Linked DNA regions of Homo sapiens: all the other regions are linked to region 4. The links come from fine-mapping of genetic effects on gene expression. A gene starts in region 4. Each other region holds a variant in brackets. All regions are shown on one strand. Distances are between the middles of the regions.

Region 1 (5,150 bases), 31 kb before region 4:
TTCTCCTGTATCTCAATAATCTTCATTTCTGTCCAGAATCTGAATTCTATTTCTGTAATTTTGGCCATCTCAGCCTGTTTGGGAACTAGTCCAATCCTTTGGAGGTAACAAGACACTATGGCTTTTTGAGTTGCCAGAGTTTTTGCACTGGTTCTTTCTCATCTTTGTGGGCTAATATTCCTTCAATCTTTGTAGTTGCTGACTTTTAGATAAGTTTTTTTTTCTTTAATTCCATTTTATGTTCTGGGAGATTTAATTGTGGTATAAGGTGGGTTCAATTGACTGGGTTTGTTTCTGGAGGATTTTAGGGAACCAAGGCTCAGCTCAGAACTCCTGGACTGTGTGTTCTAACTCTGGGGTGTTGATTTCAGACCTCTGGCTTTGTTCTGTGGTCCCTGGAAGTTAGGAACCTGCCATGCTGGAAGGGCCAAGTTGTTCCTGAAGCAGTGTTCACAAGAGTCTGATGGGTGGTGCCAGCCACAGAACTTTGTAGGGAAGTGGCAATGGGATCCATCCTTGTTTGCATGTGCCAGCAGTATGGGTAGCATGGCAGGGTGCACACTCATTCTGCAGTGAGGTGCTGGTAGGTTCAGGGGTGCCAACTTCTGTGTGGGTGTTCACAGTGGTGATGGTGGCAGGATAGTGTGGCCAGCCAGGGGTCCCCCCAGTGTCTGTGCATGTGTTTGCTCCAGGGCTGGTGTTAGCACAAGGGTGGGTGCTGGTAGGCATGAAACTCTGTGTACCCTCTGTGCAGCCGGCAGCTGCTGCTGGGGGTGGGGATGGGTCTAGTGGTCTCCCGCACAGTTTTGCACTGGCAGCAATGTTGTCATGGGGACAGGGCACTGGTGGGTACGGGCCTGGCAGTCTCTATGCCCATTAGTGCTCCTATGGCTCAATTTTTAGAAAAATAATTCTAATTTTAGCCAACTTGATCACAAACAAAATTCCTTTCACAAGATGAGTTTTCCACAGATTTTCTAAAATTTGCTTAAGGCGCCAGTTTTGTCCTGTATTTCCTTTTTATATTGGCATCTTACCTTAGGACAAAAATTTACTTTTTTTTCCTATTGTCATTTTGAACACATAAAGTTCCCCCTCATGCAACTCAAAGAAGAGGTTTCCTGGTCATAGGTGGATTCAAAGGTTTTCTGATTGGCAGTTGGTTGGGAGATCTTAATGAAAGACCTGAAATCAGTAGAAGAGAGTATCTGGGCTAAGGTAAGGGGTCGTGCAGACCAAGGATCTTATAATGCAGATGAAGTCTCCAGGTAGCAGGCTTTAAAATAAATAGATTGTGTTTCTTTAAGGTGCCAAACTCTGTTAATTCACTCCTGGATCAGAAAGAAGACCTGGAAAGGGAAAGGGGTTCTTGACAGAAGATATATTTTTTGTACAAGAGATAGCTTTGCAGTGCCATTTCAAAATATGTCAAAAAAATATATTTTGGGAGGTCATGTATGGTGGCTCATGCCTGTACTCCCATTACTTTGGGAGGTTGAGGCAGGTGGATCTCCTGAGCTCAGGAGTTCAAGACCAGCCTGGGCAACATGGCAAAACCCATCTCTACAAAAAAAAAAAAAAAAAAAAAAATTATTCAGGTGTGGTGGAGCATGTCTTTTGGCCCCAGCTACTAGAGAGGCTGGGGTGGGAAGATTGCTTGAGCCTGGAAGGTGGAGGTTGTAGTAAGCCAAGATTGCGCCACTGCACTCCAACCTGGGTGACAGAGTGAGACCCTGTCTCAAAAAAAAAAAAAAAAAAAAAAGAGAAAAGAAAAGAAAAAAGAAATATATTTTGGGGTAAAATACTTCAATTTCTTTCAGGGCCTGCTATCTGTCATGCTGATGTCTTGTTACCACAAAAAGTCTGTTTTGTCAGTCTTAAAGTCTCTGTTTTTATGTTAATACTGGTCAGCTGTGCCTGAATTCCAAATTGCCTTTTCTTTTCTCCTTTCTTTTTTTTCTTTTCTTTTCTTTTCTTTTCTCTCTCTCTCTTTCTCCTTAATATTTCTCCCCCTTTTTTTGTTTTTTTTTGTTTGTTTTTGAGACTGAATCTCGCTCTGTCACCCAGGCTGCAGTGCAGTGGCGTGATCTCGGCTTACTGTAACCTCCGCCTTCTGGGTTCAAGCGATTATAGTGCCTCAGCCTCCTGAGTAGTTGGAATTACAGGTACCCACCACTACGCCCAGCTAATTTTTGTATTTTTAGTAGAGATGGGGTTTCATGTTGGCCAGGCTAGTCTCAAACTCCTGACCCCAGGTGATCTGCCCGCCTCAGCCTCCCAAAGTGCTGGGATTACAGGCATGAGCCACCACACCTGGACCCTTATGTATTTTTCCCCTTATGTATTCTCCTATTCAATCAGGTTTACTTTAGAATGCCCTTAGCCAAGCAGGGGTCCAGCTGGTTGGTGGGGTCTTAGAATTTTATTTTTGGTGTATAGTTTATGCCTGTATTTGTAAATTTAAACCATTTCATAATTTTTAGAAAGATGTTTCCTCAATTTTCTAATTAACAGATTTAGATATAGCTTTTCTATATCATATAAATGACTCAGACATTTTATGATTATCTATTACTTAATTTAACACAACATGACTTTAAGATCAAGTTACTAAAAAGATTTTTGGAACTATGGAGTTCATTTATAAACTTGTATCCTATTTACATTCATGTAATTTATTCATTCTTTTTTTTTTTTTGAGACGGAGTCTCACTCTATTGCCCAGGCTGGAGTACAGTGGCACAATCTCAGCTCACTGCAACCTCCACCTCCCGGGTTCAAGTGATTCTCTTGCCTCAACCTCCCAAGTAGCTGTGATTACAGGCATGTGCCACCATGCCTGGCTAATTTTGTATTTTCAGTAGAGATGGAGTTTCACCATGTTGCCCAGGCTGGTCTCAAACTCCTGATCTCAGGTGATCCACCTGCCTTGGCTTTCCAAAGTGCTGGGATTACAGGCATGAGCCACCACAACTGGCCTAATTTATTCATCTTTAACAATTATGCTTGAA[T/C]AGTTCATTAAACAAAGCTAGCTATTATCTCAAGCTATTTATTAGTTAATCATTTTTACAGCTTGTGAATGTTAGGTATTTGCCACCTAAGCAGGAACCCTAAAGTTAAATACATGCATAGTTTGTTGATTAGAAGACACAGCTGTTTTCATTAAACCAACAATATTAAACTAGTCTTATTTACTAAGCATTTACCCAAGTCATGTAAACTAAAGGCATTTGAGTTTGTTTCTATTTTTCTGATTAAATATTTAAGTGTTTACTTTTTAAAAGCCAATGATTAGAGCTTTTTCATATATCTTTGTAAGGAAATATCACATACATGACACTTATAAACATATAGACATACACACAGAAGTATATTTTACAGCTTCATAACATCCTTTTTAGGCCAATTATCAAATGGTTTTTCTACCATCTATAAACAATCAAGCTCTAAACAATATTAGCTAGGCAACCCTAAATTTGTACTTTTAAAGACATGACTCTTATGTGAGAATTTTTATTTAAAGACACAGAAGTTAGATGTAAACACCATTATTTGCTGAGACAAAGAAGGGCATAGGTAAAGGCCTATGTTAAGTATCTTAAATAAAGGCAAGATTTGTCATGTAAACTTTAAACTAATGTTTTCCCAAAAGTTTCTAGTGGTTTAGGTACAGTGAGGGAGATGTCCTTACAAATGGAGGTTTCCTTTATAGATGTAGATTTATTTTACAAAAAGTTTCAGTATAGCCAGCTAAGAACATTGTATTTTGGATACCAATCTGGTTAGATAGGTGTTCTTTTCCACTTAATTTGTCTCTTGATTAGATTACTGACTTCAAGGTGGAGCCCTTTAATGAACAAGGCAAACAAAGAAAGCCTTTGCAGTTACCAGGGCCTAATATTTAAATATATGAAAAGCAGGCACAGCTGGAATGCAGCACATCTAGATCTTTAAAAATCAAGGATCTCTGGCCGGGTGTGGTGGCTCACACCTGTAATCCCAACACTTTGGGAGGCCGAGGTAGGCGGATCACAAGGTCAGGAGATCGAGACCTTCCTGGCTAACATGGTGAAGCCCATCTGTACTAAAAATACAAAAAAATAACTGGGTGTGGTGGTACACACCTGTAGTCCCAGCTACTCGGGAGGCTGAGGCAGGAGAATCACTTGAACCCGGGAGACGGAGGTTGCAGTGAGCCAAGATCGTGCCACTGCACTCCAGCCTGGGTGACAGAGTGAGACTCTGTCTCAAAAACAAACAAACAAAAAATCAAGGATCCCACTTTTACAATCCCAGGTCCCCTAATAAAAGGAAATCCCCTGGGACTGGGCCATGCAATGCTTCCACAGTGCCTTTCACCATGAAGACATTCCTTTGTTGCTGGCGGGTGAAATGATGCCGATCAGCCCCTTCTGTGATCAGCCCTTCCCTGTCAGGAGTCTTATCTCTTGGTGGCAAGTGTCCCCACAACCTCCAAATGTTCAAACCCGCCTTTTTACCTAAGTGCACAAAGAAATAAGTAGCACTCTGCATTAACAAGCATTCACTGAGACCATTGTCAGCCACTCCCCAAACTGCAGCTTTTGCAGTGGCTTGTCAGACACTGCATACACTGAAGTCAAGTTCTCTCTCACAGCACAAAGTAATCCTTGGTTCCCCAAAACCAAAGAGATCAGATATTACTATTTTTTTTTTTTTTGAGACAGGGTCTCACTTTGTCACCCAGACTGGAGTGCAGTGGCATGATCTCAGCTCATTGCAACCTCGACTTCCTAGGTTCAAGTGATTCTCATGCCTCAATCGTCCAAGTAGCTGGGATTACAGGCATGCATCACCACGCCTGGCTAATTTTTGCGTTTTTAGTAAAGATGGGGTTTTGCCATGTTGGCCAGGCTGGTCTCTAACTCCTGGCCTCAAGTGATCTACCTGCCTTGAGCTCCTACAGTGCTGCGATTATAGGAATGAGCCACCTGGCCCTGTGAGATCAGATACTACTTTTAACAGCTCTTATAATTTTTAATTATTTACCAATTTAGTTTCCTCTGTGACAATATGAATTGCAATTTATGATTTAAAATGATCAGGTTTTGAACATTTTTTGGAACGTAATAATTCTATTTTATATTCTAATTCTAAATGCATATCCCTCT
Region 2 (5,150 bases), 710 kb after region 4:
CCACTCCCCTGTGGTTTTACAGGGGTCAGCCCCAGTGGCTGCTTTCATGGGTTCAAGTTGAATGACTGTGGCTTTTCCAGTCACAGGATGCAAACTGCCAGTGGATCTGTCATTCTGGGCCTGAAGCATGGTGGTCCCCATCTCACAGAACTACTAGGTAGTGCCCCAGTGAGGAATTTGTGTGGAGTCTCCAACCCAGAATTTCTCCTCTGCACTACCCTAGTAGAGGTTCTATGTGAGGGCTGTGTCCCTGTGGCAGGCTTCTGCCTGGGCTTCTAGGCTTTTCCATACATCTTCTGATATCTAAGCAGAGGCTGGCAAGCCTCCTTCATTCTTGCACTCTGAGCATTTGCAGGCTTAACCCTATGTAGAAGCCACCAAGGCTTATGGCTATATCTGGAGCTTTTTGAGCTGAGACTGGGGTTGGAGCTGCTGGGATGCAGGGAGCAGTGTTCTAAGGCCACGTAGGGCAGCAGGGGCCCTGGGCCTGGCCCATGGAAACATTTTTCCATTCTTGGCCTCTGGGCCTTGATGGGAGGGGCTGTCACAAAGGTCTCTGAAATGCCTTTGAGGCCTTTTCTTGGCTATCAGCACCTTGCCCCTTTTTAGTTACGAAAATCTCTCTAGCAAGTGGTTGCTTCACAGCCTGCTTGGATTATTCCCCTTAAAATGGGCTTTTCTTTCTACTACATGGCCAGGCTTCAATTTTTCAAATATTTATGCTCTGCTGCCCTTTCAAATATCAGTTATAATTTTAAGTCATTTATTTGCTCCTGCATCTGAGCCTAGGATGTTAGAAAACAGCCAGGCAACATCTTGCATGCTTTACTCTTAGAAATTTCTTCCACCAGATAGTCTAAATTATCACTCTCAAGTTCAAACTTCCAGAGATCCCTAAGTCATAAACACAATGCAGACAAACTCTTTGCTAATGCACAACGCACATGACCTTCACTCCAGTTCGCAATAAATTTCTCATTTCCATCTGAGACCTCAGCAGCCTGGACTTCACTGCCCATATCACTATCAGCATTTTGGTCACAACCTTTTAACCAGGCCCTAGGATGTTCCAAACTTTACCTCATCTTCCTGTTCTCTTCTGAGCCTTTCAAACTCTTCCAACCTCTGCCTGTTACCCAATTCCAGAAACACTTCCACATTCTTGATACCAATTTTCTGTATTAGGCCATTTTTTGCATTGCTATAAAGAAATACCTGAGACTGAGCAATTTATAAAAGAAGAGGTTTAATTGGCTCATGTTTCTGCAGGCTGTACGAGAAGCATGGCACAAGCATCTGCCCAGCTTCTGGGAAGGACTCAAGGAGCTTTTATTTGTGGTGGAAGGCAAAGCAGGAATAGGTATCTCACATGGCAGAGTGGGAGCAAGCGAGTGAGGGGGGAGGTGCCACACACTTAAACAACCAGATCTCATGAGAACTCACTATCTCGAGGACAGCACCAAACCAAGAGGGATCTGCCTCCATGAACCAAACACCTCCCAGTAGGCCCCAACTCTTAATACTAGGGATAACAATTGAACATGAGACTTAGAAGGAACACATATCCAAACCATATCAATCCACATCTGATTAAGACTCTGGACTTTAGACTTTTGAGTTGATCCTGGAAGAGTTAAGATTTTGGGGGCTGTTGAGATGGCATGAATCTATTTTGCCTGTGAAATGGACATAAATTTAGTGGGGGAAGAGGTGGAATGCTGTGGTCTGAATATTTGTGTCCCCCCAACAATTCATATGAACTTTGACATGAAACGTCATCCCCAGTGTGATAGTATTAAGAGGTGGAGGATTTGGGGATTAGGTCATGAGGGCTCATGAATGGAATTAGTGCCCTTGTTAAAAAAGGTTTGAGGGAACCTGTTTGTCCCATCTGCCATGTGAAGACACATAGAAGGTGCCAGATCTATGAAGCAGAGAGCAGCCATCACCAGACACTAAATTGGCTACAGCCTTAATATTGGACTTCTCGAGCTCCAGCCCTGTGAGGAATGCATACCTGTTGTTTACAAATCACCCAGTCTAAGGTTTTGTTATAATAGCCAGGAACTGAGATAACCTCCAAGCTGTTCTCACTCTAACTCATCATTCATTTACTCAATAAACATTTTATTTGGCCCCCCCA[T/A]GCTCCAGGTAATTCTCCTTACATGAGTTTCCCCACACCTTCCCATTGTCTATGATAATTTCCCCCAACCCAACTATACTGCAGCCCTATTCTGAATCATATATTCTGTGAATGAGGGCAGGGGAGGAGAGAGGTTGTGAATGAGAGGAAGGGAAATATAGAGTAGTGGTAACGAACTGCTTTACTGAGGCAGGGATTGCATTTTTATTCCTAGCTCTTCTGTTACTGGAAAGTGGTCCTGATCTAGACCCCAAGAGAGGGTTCTCAGATCTCACGCAAGAAAGAATTCTGGGCAAATTTACAGAGTAAAGTGAAACCAAGTTTATTAAAGAAGAAATAAAGGAATCGCTACTCCATAGGCAGAGCATCGGCATGGGTGCTTGACTGATTATATATAAGATTATCTCTTGATGATCTGCTAAACAAAGGGTGGATTATTCATGAGTTTTCTGAGAAAGGGATGGGGGCTCCCAGAACTGAGAGTTCCTCTCCATTTTGGACCATATGTGGTAACTTCCGGATGTTGCCATGGCATTTGTAAACTGTCATGGCACTGATGGGAGTGTCTTTTAGCATGCTAATACATTTTAATTAGCTTTTAATGAGCAGTGAGGATGACAGAGGTCCCTTTTAGGGCCATCTTAGTTTTGGTGGGTTTTGGCCAGCTTCTTCACCTAATCTCATTTGATCCGTGAGGTCTTTGTGGCTTGAACCTTGCAAAACTCTTCCTGCTGATTCCTATCACACCTATTCAAGATGGAGTCACTCTGGTTCAAACACCTCTGACACCTCCACTAATTCTTTGTTGTTTTGGAAATGTGAAATTCTCTACATGCCTCTGAGTATCCATCAGCAAAACATGAGCAGCCACTCTGTGTGTGTGTGCGTATAAGCACAGGTGTGTATGCCCATGCACACACACTCTCTACCATATCTCACCAAATGAGATATGACCACAAGATAATATAACTGATTTGTGAACCTTTCTGAAGGCAATTCCAAACGTGGAATTTTGAAAATATTTTGGGCCAAAGAAACATTATCTGAAACAGTGTGTAGGTGTCCGACTTGACTACTCTGAAGGAAAATCTACAAGTTTATACTCTGGTATGAATATTTGGGGAAAACAACCCTACAAAATCATTGCTTTCCAACGATACATCATGAGTCATTGACTTGGAATGCCAAATACAAGCTGGCAACTCACAGACCTTCTGAAGCTCGCTCAGTTTTCACTTTGGTCTTCTGCAGCTCGCTGAGTTTTTGTTTTTTGTTTTTTTAACTTTTCATTTTTTAATTGCAAGATTTTAATTTTTAAAAAATCTCAATGTCCCACTAATCAGGAAAAATCAGGAGAACTGTGCCGTCATGATCAAGCATGCTCTGCAGCTGGACTGTCTGGGTCTTAATCCCAGTTCTGCAACTTTCTACTTCTCTGACCTTCATCAAGTTATTTATCCTCTCTACCTCAGGACTGGAAGGAACTCCAGTTATTTTCCTCATCTGAAAAATAGAGATAATAATAGTACCTCCTGAATAGGGTTATTGTGAGCTTAAAATGAGAACATCGATTTGTTTAAAGCATATTAAACCCTTAGTAAACATAACCTATTATCTGGGAACACCAAACTTTATTCCTGCAGGACTCAAGCAGCATCTGCCCTGTGCACATGCGGGGAAAAGGGCTCCAGTTCACCCATTTCCCATCTGGTCCACTTCATCCCTTTGCCTTATCTGCCTGGCTCCTGTGGGCATTTGCAGTTTGCAACCCCCACTTTAGAATCACAGATCTGGTCAAATGGCCATGTTTAAAGAGAAAGAAAGCATTCACTCCCAGTTACAAAGTTAGGTAACAGCAATGCTCATATCTCCTGTCTGCCCATCTAGTTCCATTCTGGGTGCTCCTTATATCTGTAATCTTGGCCAACAGCAAAGGCTCTCCTCTACAACTCCAATGAATTATAGCAGGGTCACAACATTACTCACAAGGCACACAGATTTGCAGAGTAAATGCAATTTCTTACTTTCATCTATAACTGATCGTCTTCCTGGGGCTCCCACCACCCTGGATAGCAGAAATAACAGATTCGTCAATGAAAAATATTTCTATCTCTTCCAATCTAAATGGTTTCCTCTCTATTTCCAATTTTAATCTTAAAAATTCACTGAACTCTCTCTTTTAGGACTGGTCAAAGCAGCCTCTCTGGAATGACTCACCTCTCTGGCTTCTGTTTCTGCTTCATTTCTTTTTCCTGGGGTTGGCATCTGAGTATATGAGGGCACACTTCATTTTTGAGGCTTTGGAGCATAGGGCTTCTCAGACGTGGCTTTGCAGAAGGTGTCTCTGGACTGCCCAGTGGCTGCTCGTCTTATTGTCAGTCTCTGGCTGAAAGCAGCTGTCACTTGTTCTGGCTTTGTCAAGACCTGATGACCTCCCCTGACTGACCTGCCCCCACCCAGACTCCCGCAAACACTGTGACTCGAGAGGTCTGACTCTCACTTTCTTCCACTCCCATCCCTAAAGCCACCTGACCCTCATCGTGGAGATCCTGTTTGACAAGGTCCCCAGGCCAACCCTTAACTAACCTCAACACATGCCACTTGAGGCTGGGTTGCCTGGAAAAAGAGTCTGCAGTAAAACTTAAAAGTCAGTGTATTATTGGGGCAGGGGGTCAATCCTGAGAAAGCCAGAATGAAAGGAAATGTAACTAAAGTAGGGGCCAAGAGAATGCAGATACAAAGTGATGCACAAAACTTTTCTGCAGTGCTCCCAGCCTCTCCAGGCAGCACTGAGGGAAGTCGAACCATGTTGCATCTGACCTTGAACATGGCGGAGCTCTGGCTTCAGCAGCAATAGCTCCCATAGGACACACAACAAGCCGTTAGGAGGTAAGGTCAATAGCATCACCTGGGGCAAGTCATGTTCCTCCAGGCCAAGCAGGCCAAACTACAGCCCTTACTAGCCCAAGGTACCTAAAATGAGAAATGAGGGGAAGAAATGGAAAGG
Region 3 (5,150 bases), 330 kb before region 4:
AGAATCCAGTTCTCTGGCACCAAGTCCCGTGCTCTTTCCACTTCCCCGCTCATAATTTCAGGGTGGTCCGAGGCAGTATAAGAGGCTAGTGAAATGTTAGAGTTTTGAAGAAAACTGAAGTAGTAAGGCAGTGTTAAGAAAAACAGGGAATCCTCTAGGTTTGGTCAGAGTTCATCCAGGACTTGCCCAGAATGCTTGAGCTCCCTCAGGAACACCTGGCTGTGATCCACAGCCCTCCAGGTGTCTTTTCATTTCTCCCCCAACCATTCAGAGGAACTGCTGGCCTGAGGATGCCCCAGGAACAGCCCCACTCCTGGCCTGTGGGGAGTTACCCCTGAACAGGAGCAGCTCCAAACCCAGCTGTCTAGAGCGGGACCAGCCTCAGGGCTGGGAGGAGGGCTGGGGCCCAAGCAATGCGGTCTGCGCTTTGTTTCCCTTGCCGTGGCACTGCCAAGACCTGCAGTACACGCCCCCAGTCATCGTTTTGACAACCCCAATATCTCCCACACTTCCCTCTGTCTCCAGAGCCTTTTTCTGAGGCTATTTATTACTAAGTACAGAACAGTCTATAAATAATTTTCATGTCAAAAGAAAAGTACCTGTGCTAGAGAGTTACAATGATTCCAATTAATTTTATGACCATTTTTATCATTGGAGTTTGGAAACTTGGAGTGGAAATCCAGCAATATTGCCAACTTTTGCCTGGTATGAGTGGAGTGGCATTTTTATTTCACCCTGTATGCCAGCCCCTTGCCACTGTCTTCGTTTCTTCAGTTTTCTTGAAGCAGTCATTTTGAAGAGATAAACAATGTATGTAAAAAATTACATGGAACCTGCAAACACACTTGAGACTAAAATGCGGAGCTGCTTCTAGATATGCATCCTAGTGAGCCACTGAAAGTACTTTGATGATTTAGTTGCCGCACATAAATAAAATATTCAATTAAATTAAAAAACATACTTTTTTTATTTTTTTATTTTTTTAGTATTTATTGATCATTCTTGGGTGTTTCTCCGAGAGGGGGATTTGGCAGGGTCACAGGACAATAGTGGAGGGAAGGTCAGCAGATAAACAAGTGAACAAGGGTCTCTGGTTTTCCTAGGCAGAGGACCCTGCGGCCTTCCGCAGTGTTTGTGTCCCTGGGTACTTGAGATTAGGGAGTGGTGATGACTCTTAACGAGCATGCTGCCTTCAAGCATCTGTTTAACAAAGCACATCTTGCACCGCCCTTAATCCATTTAACCCTGAGTGGACACAGCACATGTTTCAGAGAGCAGGGGGTTGGGGGTAAGGTTATAGATTAACAGCATCCCAAGGCAGAAGAATTTTTCTTAGTACAGAACAAAATGGAGTCTCCTACGTCTACTTCCCTCTGCACAGACACAGCAACAATCTGATTTCTCTATCTTTTCCCCACATTTCCCCCTTTTCTATTCGACAAAACCGCCATCGTCATCATGGCCCGTTCTCAATGAGCTGTTGGGTACACCTCCCAGACGGGGTGACTGCTGGGCAGAGGGGCTCCTCACTTCCCAGACGGGGCAGCCGGGCAGAGGCATCCCCCACCTCCCTCCCGGACGGGGCGGCTGCCTGGCGGAGGGGGGGCTTCACTTCACACATGGGGCGGCTGCCGGGCGGAGGGGCTCTTCACTTCTCAGACGGGGCGGCCGGGCGGAGACGCTCCTCACCTCCCAGATGGGGTGGCGGCCAGGCAGAGGCACTCCTCACATCCCAGAAGGGGTGGCGGGGCAGAGGCACTCCCCACATCTCAGACGATGGGCGGCCGGGCAGAGACGCTCCTCACTTCCTAGAGGGGATGGCGGCCGGGAAGAGGTGCTCCTCACTTGCCAGACTGGGTGGCCGGGCAGAGGGGCTCCTCACATCCCAGACGATGGGCGGCCATGCAGAGACGCTCCTCACTTCCCAGACGGGGTGGCGGCCCGGCAGAGGCTGCAATCTCGGCACTTTGGGAGGCCAAGGCAGGCGGCTGGGAGGTGGAGGTTGTAGCGAGCCGAGATCACGCCACTGCACTCCAGCCTGGGCAACATTGAGCACTGAGTGAGGGAGACTCCGTCTGCAATCCCGGCACCTCAGGAGGCCGAGGCTGGCAGATCACTCGCGGTTAGGAGCTGGAGACCAGCCCGGCCAACACAGCGAAACCCCGTCTCCACCAAAAAAATAGGAAAACCAGTCAGGCGTGGTGGCGCGCTCCTGCAATCCCAGGCACTCGACAGGCTGAGGCAGGAGAATCAGGCAGGGAGGTTGCAGTGAGCTGAGATGGTGGCAGTACAGTCCAGCTTCGGCTCGGCATCAGAGGGAGACCGTGGGGAGAGGGAGACTGCGGGGAGAGGGAGACCGTGGGGAGAGGGAGACTGTGGGGAGAGGGAGAGGGAGAGGCAAAAACATACTTAAGAAAAATATACGCACACATTTTAAGGCTGCTTGGGGAAATGTATCCACTATAAAGACATGTACATTTTTTAAGTTTTTACCCTACCTCATTCCAAAAGGATTCAAGATCACTTTGGGACAGATACTGGCAGATAAAACAATCTGAACTCAAAATGTAATGGCAGAATGGCTTCCTTACTACACAGGCCTCCCATTTCCACAGCTACAGCTACAGCTACAGCTACACCCCCAGTTTCAGAACCAATACTCTTCTTAGCCAGAGAGAATTCAAACCACTTC[C/T]CTCATTTGGGAGTTGGGTGGAGCAATGTCAAGTCATCTTGAGGATGTTCTGCTCAGATGTGGTGCATTAGTAACCAGGCCCTTAATCCAACTCCTCTCCCTGAGCCTTCAGTGAACTTTGTCTCTGGGTGCCAGTCTTGTCCCCCAAGGCCAAGCCCATCCTCAAAACCTGTGTAATTTCCTTGATCCTCCAGATTTGGGAACCTTCCATCCTCCCCCTAGCCCAGTTGGTAGTAGGGGTTCTCCCCTGAACCCCAATCCCTCCTCCTAAGGTGGAAGGGCAAAAATGTGGACTTCGAAATCAACATATCTGGGAGTGACTCTACAGTGTACCTTTTTACTGTCATTAAAACTTTGACAACTTACTTCAATTTTCTTTAGATAGGAGGAATAATAATACCAATCTCAGAGATTTTGGTGAGGATGAAATGAGGTAACACAAAGTGCTTCAGACAGGGTATCATATTTAGTGCATGTCAATATTGTTATTACCTCTCCCCAAGCATACTGAACACCAACCATCTATCTCCCATGTCTCACCATATTAACCTGAAAACAAGCTTCCCTGCAGGCCAGATCTACTCAGCCCCCTTTCTGCCTGCAGAATACCCTCTAGTACCTCTTAGTGGACTTCCTTCCCTCTCCCTGTCCTACTCTCTACTCCTCATCACAGAATCTGATTTTGCACACTGAAGGGCCTGCCTCACATTGTCCACCTACAGCCAGGTGTGTTCCACATCCAGGTGGGTCAGTCCAGACTTTCCCACATTCTCCACCACCACCTCAGCCCAGGGTCTGATGGAAGTGAAGATAAAACTGATGCGTAAGAGTTACAAGAGTGGACAGTTTCTTTATCATTACTGCATTTCTCTTTTGTTGGAAAGACCAATCCTTTAAATGTTTCATGACTTTTACCCTTATTTTTTTTTCTTTATTCTAAAACTAGTAGCTACCATGATGAACAAGATAGACACAGTACCTGCCTTCAATTTGTGTATGCTTTAGTAAGAGAATACTATACTGGACAGTATATTACACATTTGACATTCCAAGTCTCAAAATACCCAGTTTTAACTTTGTACTTTACATGATTCTTCCACTTGGGAAAGTTGCTTAAACCATCTGCACGTCATTTTCTTCATCTGAAAAATGGGAATAATGCTAGCCTCCACCTATGGCTTTGCAAGCAGCCTCAGCTCTCCCCATTGGCTGGTCTCCTTAATGTAGTACACAAATGGTACAGCTATAGGAAGATCCCTGAATTAGATAATTCACTTTAAATACTTAAAAAGTAACACTGAAAGGCTGACACATTGTAAATTTCTAGCAATAACATTATTAATTGTAATAGTGGAATGAGACTAATGAGAACACATTGGGAAGACAGATTAATATCATTCAGAGCCTTATATATTTTGCAGCAGCTTTGTCTCATTAGAAACATGTTTTCAGTCGATATTAAATGTAAGAAAACAGCTTTCTTCTTATCACCAGCTCATTCTTCAGAAGCCACTGAATCATGTGAGATGTCTCTTTCATTTTTGACCCCTGCTTCAGCACTCCTTCTAAAAAGATAGTAAATGAGCATGTTACATTTGCTGCTGCAGTTAACTACTGTCTGTGAGATGCAGCAAGAGATTATCTGAGAGCATGTGCGTAAATGATAGATTGCCTCGAGCCTATTTATACATGCAGCAGTAATGAGGAAAAGTTGAAGGAGGCATGAAGGATGGGAGGGAGGGAAGGAGAGAGATGATGCCAGAATGTGCAGAGTGTAGACAGAGGAAGAGAGTCAAAGAAGGAAAAATAAAGAGAGGTGAACAGCAGGACTAGAAACATGTAAGCAGAGATGGTGGGAGGGGGCATCAGTAGGTAAAAGGAAAGAAGGGAACAGAGAAAACTCATTAGCAACCAACAGAAAAGGCAGAATTTTGAGAAAACAAAATGCATCAGGCAGATTGGGAAGAAAGTAGAATGAAAGAAATGAAAACAGGAATCAAGGTGAATAGAATCCAATGCCACAGTGGGAAACATACATTATTAGATGATGTCGATTTTATGTAAACAAGGGAGCAAAGGTTTTGTCTGATAGAAATTTCTGAACTCCTTTGAAGTCACTACCATAAGCATTCCACAGGCATTCTATTCCTTCTTTGCATTGTATTTAAAATGGGCACACTAGGGAAAATTACAGAGTGTCTTTATCATAAGTTGAACTCCTAAGCTATCACATTTCAAATACTGAAACACTATCATATAATATTAAAGGAAATTATAGTATGAATAGAGACAAAACTGAAGTTATTCTGTTAATAAGACTATTTCCATCATCTTTCCTTAGGATGCTTTATCCATAGTGGCATGTTGGTCTTATAACATCCCTTTAGGAGAAATTGATGGGCATAGCATGGTTTTTATTTCACCAAACATGGTTAAAGGACTAATAAGATAATCCACA
Region 4 (5,150 bases):
AGGTATGCAAAAGATCCTTTTAACTTGCTGATATAGCACTCAGTAATCAGATGCTGTTCAATTTCCATTATGTCGATGGTGTTTTCAATCCTGTGAACTTTGCAATCCATGCGCCAATGTTGGCAGAAATACTGAACTCTTATTACAAAATTTTCATATCATTTAAAGCTTTAGATTATTGCCTTTATAGTGGAACTTCTGTGAAATTGAGTCCTGAGATCTGAGTTTTAGCCTTGAGGTTGCTCCTGACCTTGAGACATTAATACTCAAATCTTAAAGTTTTCTGGGCCTCCGTGCTGGGATTGGTCATAGTTCAGTTGTTTCCTGTCTTCTCTCTTCTCTTCCTCTCCCAGAGTGCTCAGCCCAGGTTACCACACCAACTTAATCTGTAACATTTCGGTAAGTCATCTGGGCAGGATCCTTGATCCTCTAAGCCTTATGTGACTGATCTGCAAAAAAGGAGATAATAGCATGTACCAGCTGATAGTTATGGTGGCGATTAAAGGAGATCAGGAATGTAAACATTGGGTGCAGTGGTTCACGCCTGTTGTCCCAGCGCTTTGGGAGGCCAAGGTGGGATGATTGCTGGAGCCCAGGAGTTTGGGATGACTCGGGGCTGCCCAGCCTCAGGCTGGGCAACATAGCGAGAACCTGTCTCTTAAAAAACAGAGAGAGAGAGAAGAAAATCAGTCATGACTTACAATGGAAGAAATTATCATCAGGATGTATTTGGAAATAATATTTAGGTTGAAAGACTTAAGCAGGAATATTATTTCTCATGTCCACTGGAAAACACAGTGACATGACTCCCAAAACCTTCAGTCAACAAGTCTGTCTTACTGTTTCCTCCCCAGATTCTAGGGATATTAGCAATCAACGGCTCTCAAATCTTTACTCTTGGTTAGATAAAAGCTATCTTCAACTAATTTTTCTTCTGATTCAATTTGTCATTAAATACACTGATCTAAGAATTTATCACGCATCTCACTTGTACAATTTCTCCTTTGAAAGCATCGAATTGCAACCTTGTATGTGTAACTGTTCCACACATTCAGAAACGGGCCCCTTCAATTCGCGTGGACCTATCTGCTAAGTGGTGCACAGACTCGCGCTCTGAGCCCGCAGCCACGACCTTTAATGCGGGAAATGTGCATGATCCCATACAGCGCCCATCTCAACAACTAGAGGCTGGGTGCACCCGAGAGGGGTATGCCTGCCTTGAAGATATGGAAAAGTTTTGTTTTCGTTCTTTCCACTCCTTGGACAGTCCCTAGTGCTTGCGCGGAACCGGGACGTCTCCTTTGGACCCGCTAATGTCACAAGCCGCCCGAGCGCGCCGCTGCTGGCCTCCGCCCAGACCCGGATTCCTCCCCCTTCCCGGCGCCCTTTCTCGGGCGCCCGGCCCGCAGCTGGCGAGGGCTCTCTGACCGCTCCGGTGTCCTCGCCCCATTTTACTTCTTGGGTCCCCGCCGGTGCCATCTGGTTGGAACCCTCGGGAGGAACTAAAAGTTGGACGTCGCCACCCCTACCCCTCGCCAAAAAATAAACACCGGGGGCTGCCGAGGCCCGCCAGGAGGAAGGCGACGAGGAAAAAGCGAGGACGGAAGGCGGCCCCGGGTTCGCCCCGGCCTGGGCCGCCCGCTTCCCCACCCCGCGCACCGTACCGTCCCCGGCTCCCTGGCTCCCCGACGGCGAGGAGGGCCGCCGCTTCCGCGTCGGGGTCGGCCGGGGGACCTGCGAGGTGCGGCTGCCGCAGCGGCGCGCCCCGGAGCCTGGCCCGGCATTCCAGTCCGAATAGAAAGAGGCAGGGAATCAAATGGAAAAGCAGGAGGCCAGGCCTGGGCGGGCGAGCTGGGAAGGAGGCGGCGCGGCGGGGCCCGGGAACCCAGCCTGGAGCGCTCTGAGCGGCCGGCTCGGACTCACGCGGCGCGCCCGGGCCGCCCCTCCTCCCCGCGCCGCCGGCCGCGGCCCAGGCTCCCTCGCTCCGCCACTCCCCGCCCCTCCGCGCTCCCTCCCCGCCCTCCCCGCGCCGCCGCCTCCTCCTCCCGGCCTCCCTCTCCCAGCCAAACTGAAAGCCGGACCCCAGGCCGCCGCGCTGCCGCCCGGCCTCCCCGCCAGCGCGCCACCATGGGCAGTCCCGGTTTCCCCTTGTAAAGATGGCGGTGAGGGATCGCTGCAACCTTTAGACTAATGACTGTCCGAAACATCGCCTCCATCTGTAATATGGTGAGTGGCCGAGCCGCCTCGGGGTCGCGCCCGACTCGCGGCGAGGCAAAGAAAGGGAAGCCCGAGCTGCACACACGCCCGGTGGCTGGGGCGGCGGGGGCGGCGGGGTCCGCGCCGCCAGAAGTTCCCGGCCCCCGAGCTGGGCGCGCGGCCGCAGCCACCTCAGCGGCCGGGGAGGGTCCCCGAGCCCCCGGCGCCCGTCTCAGCCCCGGGACCTCGGAACCCGCCCGGCGATCCCGGGGCCGCGCTGCTGCGCCCCCCGCCCTCGGGTTGCGGTGGAAGCGGCTTGAGGGAAGGGAAGCGACCGAACCTGAACGTCCCCGGGGAGGGGGTGGGGGATAAGCTGGAGGTGGGGGGCACCCATCCTCTTCTTGCGGTCAAGACAGCCTTATTGGACGTCCAGACTGCCCTCATCTCATTTTGAGTTCAGTCCTTCCGAGGTGTTTAAAATTCACTTTGCAATAGCAATTGTGTATCTGGAGAAATCGGAAATGTAATAAAGCTGTAAAAAAAGTGCAAAATTGTGGCTGGAGAAGTGAACTTCAACCTGGTTTGAAAAAGCACCGTAATTTGCTCCGCATGCCTCAGTTTCCCCATCTGTGAAAAAGGGACAAGGCTCTGTGGCGGTAATATTTGCAGGCCCTAAGGGTGGGGCGGGCTGTGGGCTTGGAGGAGGTCTCCAGGGTTATCCTGCCTGATCCGCTGTAGACCTAGGGGAGGCTGGCGGGCATGGATACAGCCAGGGACATCACTGGGTTCTGATGCAGTCCGAGCCCATGATGCGGTGGTCACTTTAATTTGGGTTTCCCCCATTGCTTTCCCTTTTTCTGTAGGAAGAACCTCCAGCCCTTGGGTCCCCAGGCTGGACCCTGCTGGCGCCTCCACTTGTCAGAGCCTTTGGGGAGCTCAGATTGGAGTAAGGCATTGCTGTCCCTTGCAGGGTGAGATGATGTGTGTTTTGCCTACATTCTTTAGACTGCACCCCGCCTCCCCTCTAGCCCCCTCCCAAGCGGGTCCCCGGAGGCAACACGTGCTCTTACAGTGCCAGTTTGAGGAAAACCTCCCTTGAAGCTAGTAATACTGGCCCCTAAAGGGAATCCAAGGAAGCTTGATGGAGAAGCCCTGGTGTAAGGTGATCTGGCTGCCCTTCCCCCATCACATAGCTTTTTAAATCTTCTGTCCCACATTCTGTTGCAAGATCAACACATGGCAAAGGAGCATTAAGAAGCCTTGTGTTAGCTCAGGGGTGGAATTGAGACCCGCTGGCTTCAGCTTTCAGCACAATGGGACGTGCCACTGTCACGGCCAGCAAAGCAAATGCTGGGGCCTCCCAGAGTGATAGCTGCACAGGTACTGGTTGGTGCCGGGCGAGTTCCATACGGGGAGTGGATCCTAGAGCCTTTCTGTTTTCTCTTTTTTTCCTTTCTCTGCGAGGAGTCAGATTTCCTCTTATTCCTGTGGAGGGGCTGCTTGTGAAGAGGTGATGCCTTCTCAGTTTCTCTCCTACGACCAGTTCCTGAGGGAACTGTGAATCGGGAGCAGCTTGAATACTCTTTTATGTCTGTTGGTGTGGCCGCAGGCCTAAGGATACTACAGGGTAGTGAGGCTCCGACCCAGCCCTTGGTGGTGTTCTTGTCCTGCTTGTGTGTGGTTACACCTCTCTGTGTAGAAGCAGGCTGGAAACTTGAGAGCTAGCATGCCCCTAGAGGAAGCCAGCCCCCAACCTCCCCCCACGCGTCCCCCCACCCACCCTCAGTGCTGCGGGGGCTTTCTGGCACACCTGGGCTGAATGTCACAACGTGTTTCAGTGAAACTCAGTCAGGGAGACAGGGTGTGGGGAGGACCTGAGAGGAGCAGGCCAATACTGCCCTGAGAGTTGACATCTCAGGTGGAGACCTAAAAAGGTACCAAATTTAGGACCATCACCCAGATGAAGTGAGGAACCAGTAATTCATTAAGTAAGGAGTCTGATGTTGTATTTAGACGCCATGTCTAGAGAGTGACAGAGTTTGGGTTCTAATGTCAGACTTCCTGGGTTCAGGTCCTGGTTCTTTTTTTTTTTTTTTTTTTTTTTGACAAGGTCTCACACTGTCACCCAGGCTGGAGTGCAGTGGCATGAACATGGTGGCTCACTGCAGCCTCCACTTCCCAGGCTCAAGTGATTCTCCCACCTCTGCCTTCTGAGTAGCTGGGACTACAGGCACGTGCCACCATGCCTGGCTAATTTTTAAATTTTCCATAGAGACTGGGTCTCCCTATGTTGCCCAGGCTGGTCCCTAATACCTGGGCTCAAGTGGTCCTCCCACCTCAGCCTCCCGAAGCGCCAAATTACTGCCGTGAGCCACCATACCCGGCAGGTCCTGGTTCTAACACATGTTGGCTTTGTGTCCTTGAACAAGTTGTCCGGTCTTAGACTTTCCTTATCTACCAAAAGGTGATGTTAATATTGTTGTATTACTCGGGCACAGGGCCTGGTACATGGCTAGAACTCAGTGAGTGTCATTGTCAACATCATCTTTCTCATTGTTATGTCATCTACCAGGTGTTTAAGGGACAGTGGAGATCATGCCATTTCAGACCTGGTGGAAGCAACCACTAATATAAACACCTCCCATGTATAGGAAGGCTGGAGTGGGAATCCTTAACCCCGCCCCCTGCTCAGGTCAATCCCCCACCCACCGCCCCCACTGTCCCTCCCAGTCTTCCTTCCCAGAGGAGAAGGCTGGGTATGAGGAAACTGCTGTCTTTTCACTGGATCAGACGTAAATATTAACTGGACCTCTCTTTAGATTCTTTGCTCAATAATGAATTGTTTTCAGGTAGGTGTCTTACAGGTCCCTTCTCACTGCTTAGCTCCTCTGTGGGCCTCTTACTGACCCTTCCCGCTCCTAACTTTGGTCCCAGCTGGTTTGAGTAGTTGTAGT

The links. PIP is the estimated chance that this variant, and not a neighbour inherited with it, causes the effect.
Region 1: its variant is the best candidate, but not a certain one, in a credible set for the expression of USP46 in whole blood (INTERVAL, PIP 0.76).
Region 2: its variant is the best candidate, but not a certain one, in a credible set for the expression of USP46 in monocytes (BLUEPRINT, PIP 0.57).
Region 3: its variant is the best candidate, but not a certain one, in a credible set for the expression of USP46 in whole blood (TOPMed, PIP 0.55).

Annotation. Positions count from the first base shown.
Region 1 is chr4:52,687,233-52,692,382 of GRCh38, reverse strand. No RefSeq gene overlaps it. Among named protein-coding and RNA genes, the nearest start is that of DANCR, 23 kb to the left of the region's middle. The variant T/C (reference allele first, on the strand shown) is at 3,012.
Region 2 is chr4:51,941,595-51,946,744 of GRCh38, reverse strand. No RefSeq gene overlaps it. Among named protein-coding and RNA genes, the nearest start is that of LRRC66, 76 kb to the left of the region's middle. The variant T/A (reference allele first, on the strand shown) is at 2,144.
Region 3 is chr4:52,989,232-52,994,381 of GRCh38, reverse strand. All of the region lies in intron 5 of SCFD2 (sec1 family domain containing 2), which reads left to right. Among named protein-coding and RNA genes, the nearest start is that of SCFD2-AS1, 64 kb to the right of the region's middle. The variant C/T (reference allele first, on the strand shown) is at 2,693.
Region 4 is chr4:52,656,191-52,661,340 of GRCh38, reverse strand. It overlaps USP46 (ubiquitin specific peptidase 46), which reads left to right and starts at 2,040. Exons shown (of 9, transcript NM_022832.4): 1 at 2,040-2,226. The coding sequence starts at 2,191. It overlaps USP46-DT (USP46 divergent transcript), which reads right to left and starts at 1,935. Exons shown (of 2, transcript NR_125363.1): 1 at 1,665-1,935; 2 at 1-449. RefSeq lists silencers at 1,627-2,056, 2,067-2,586.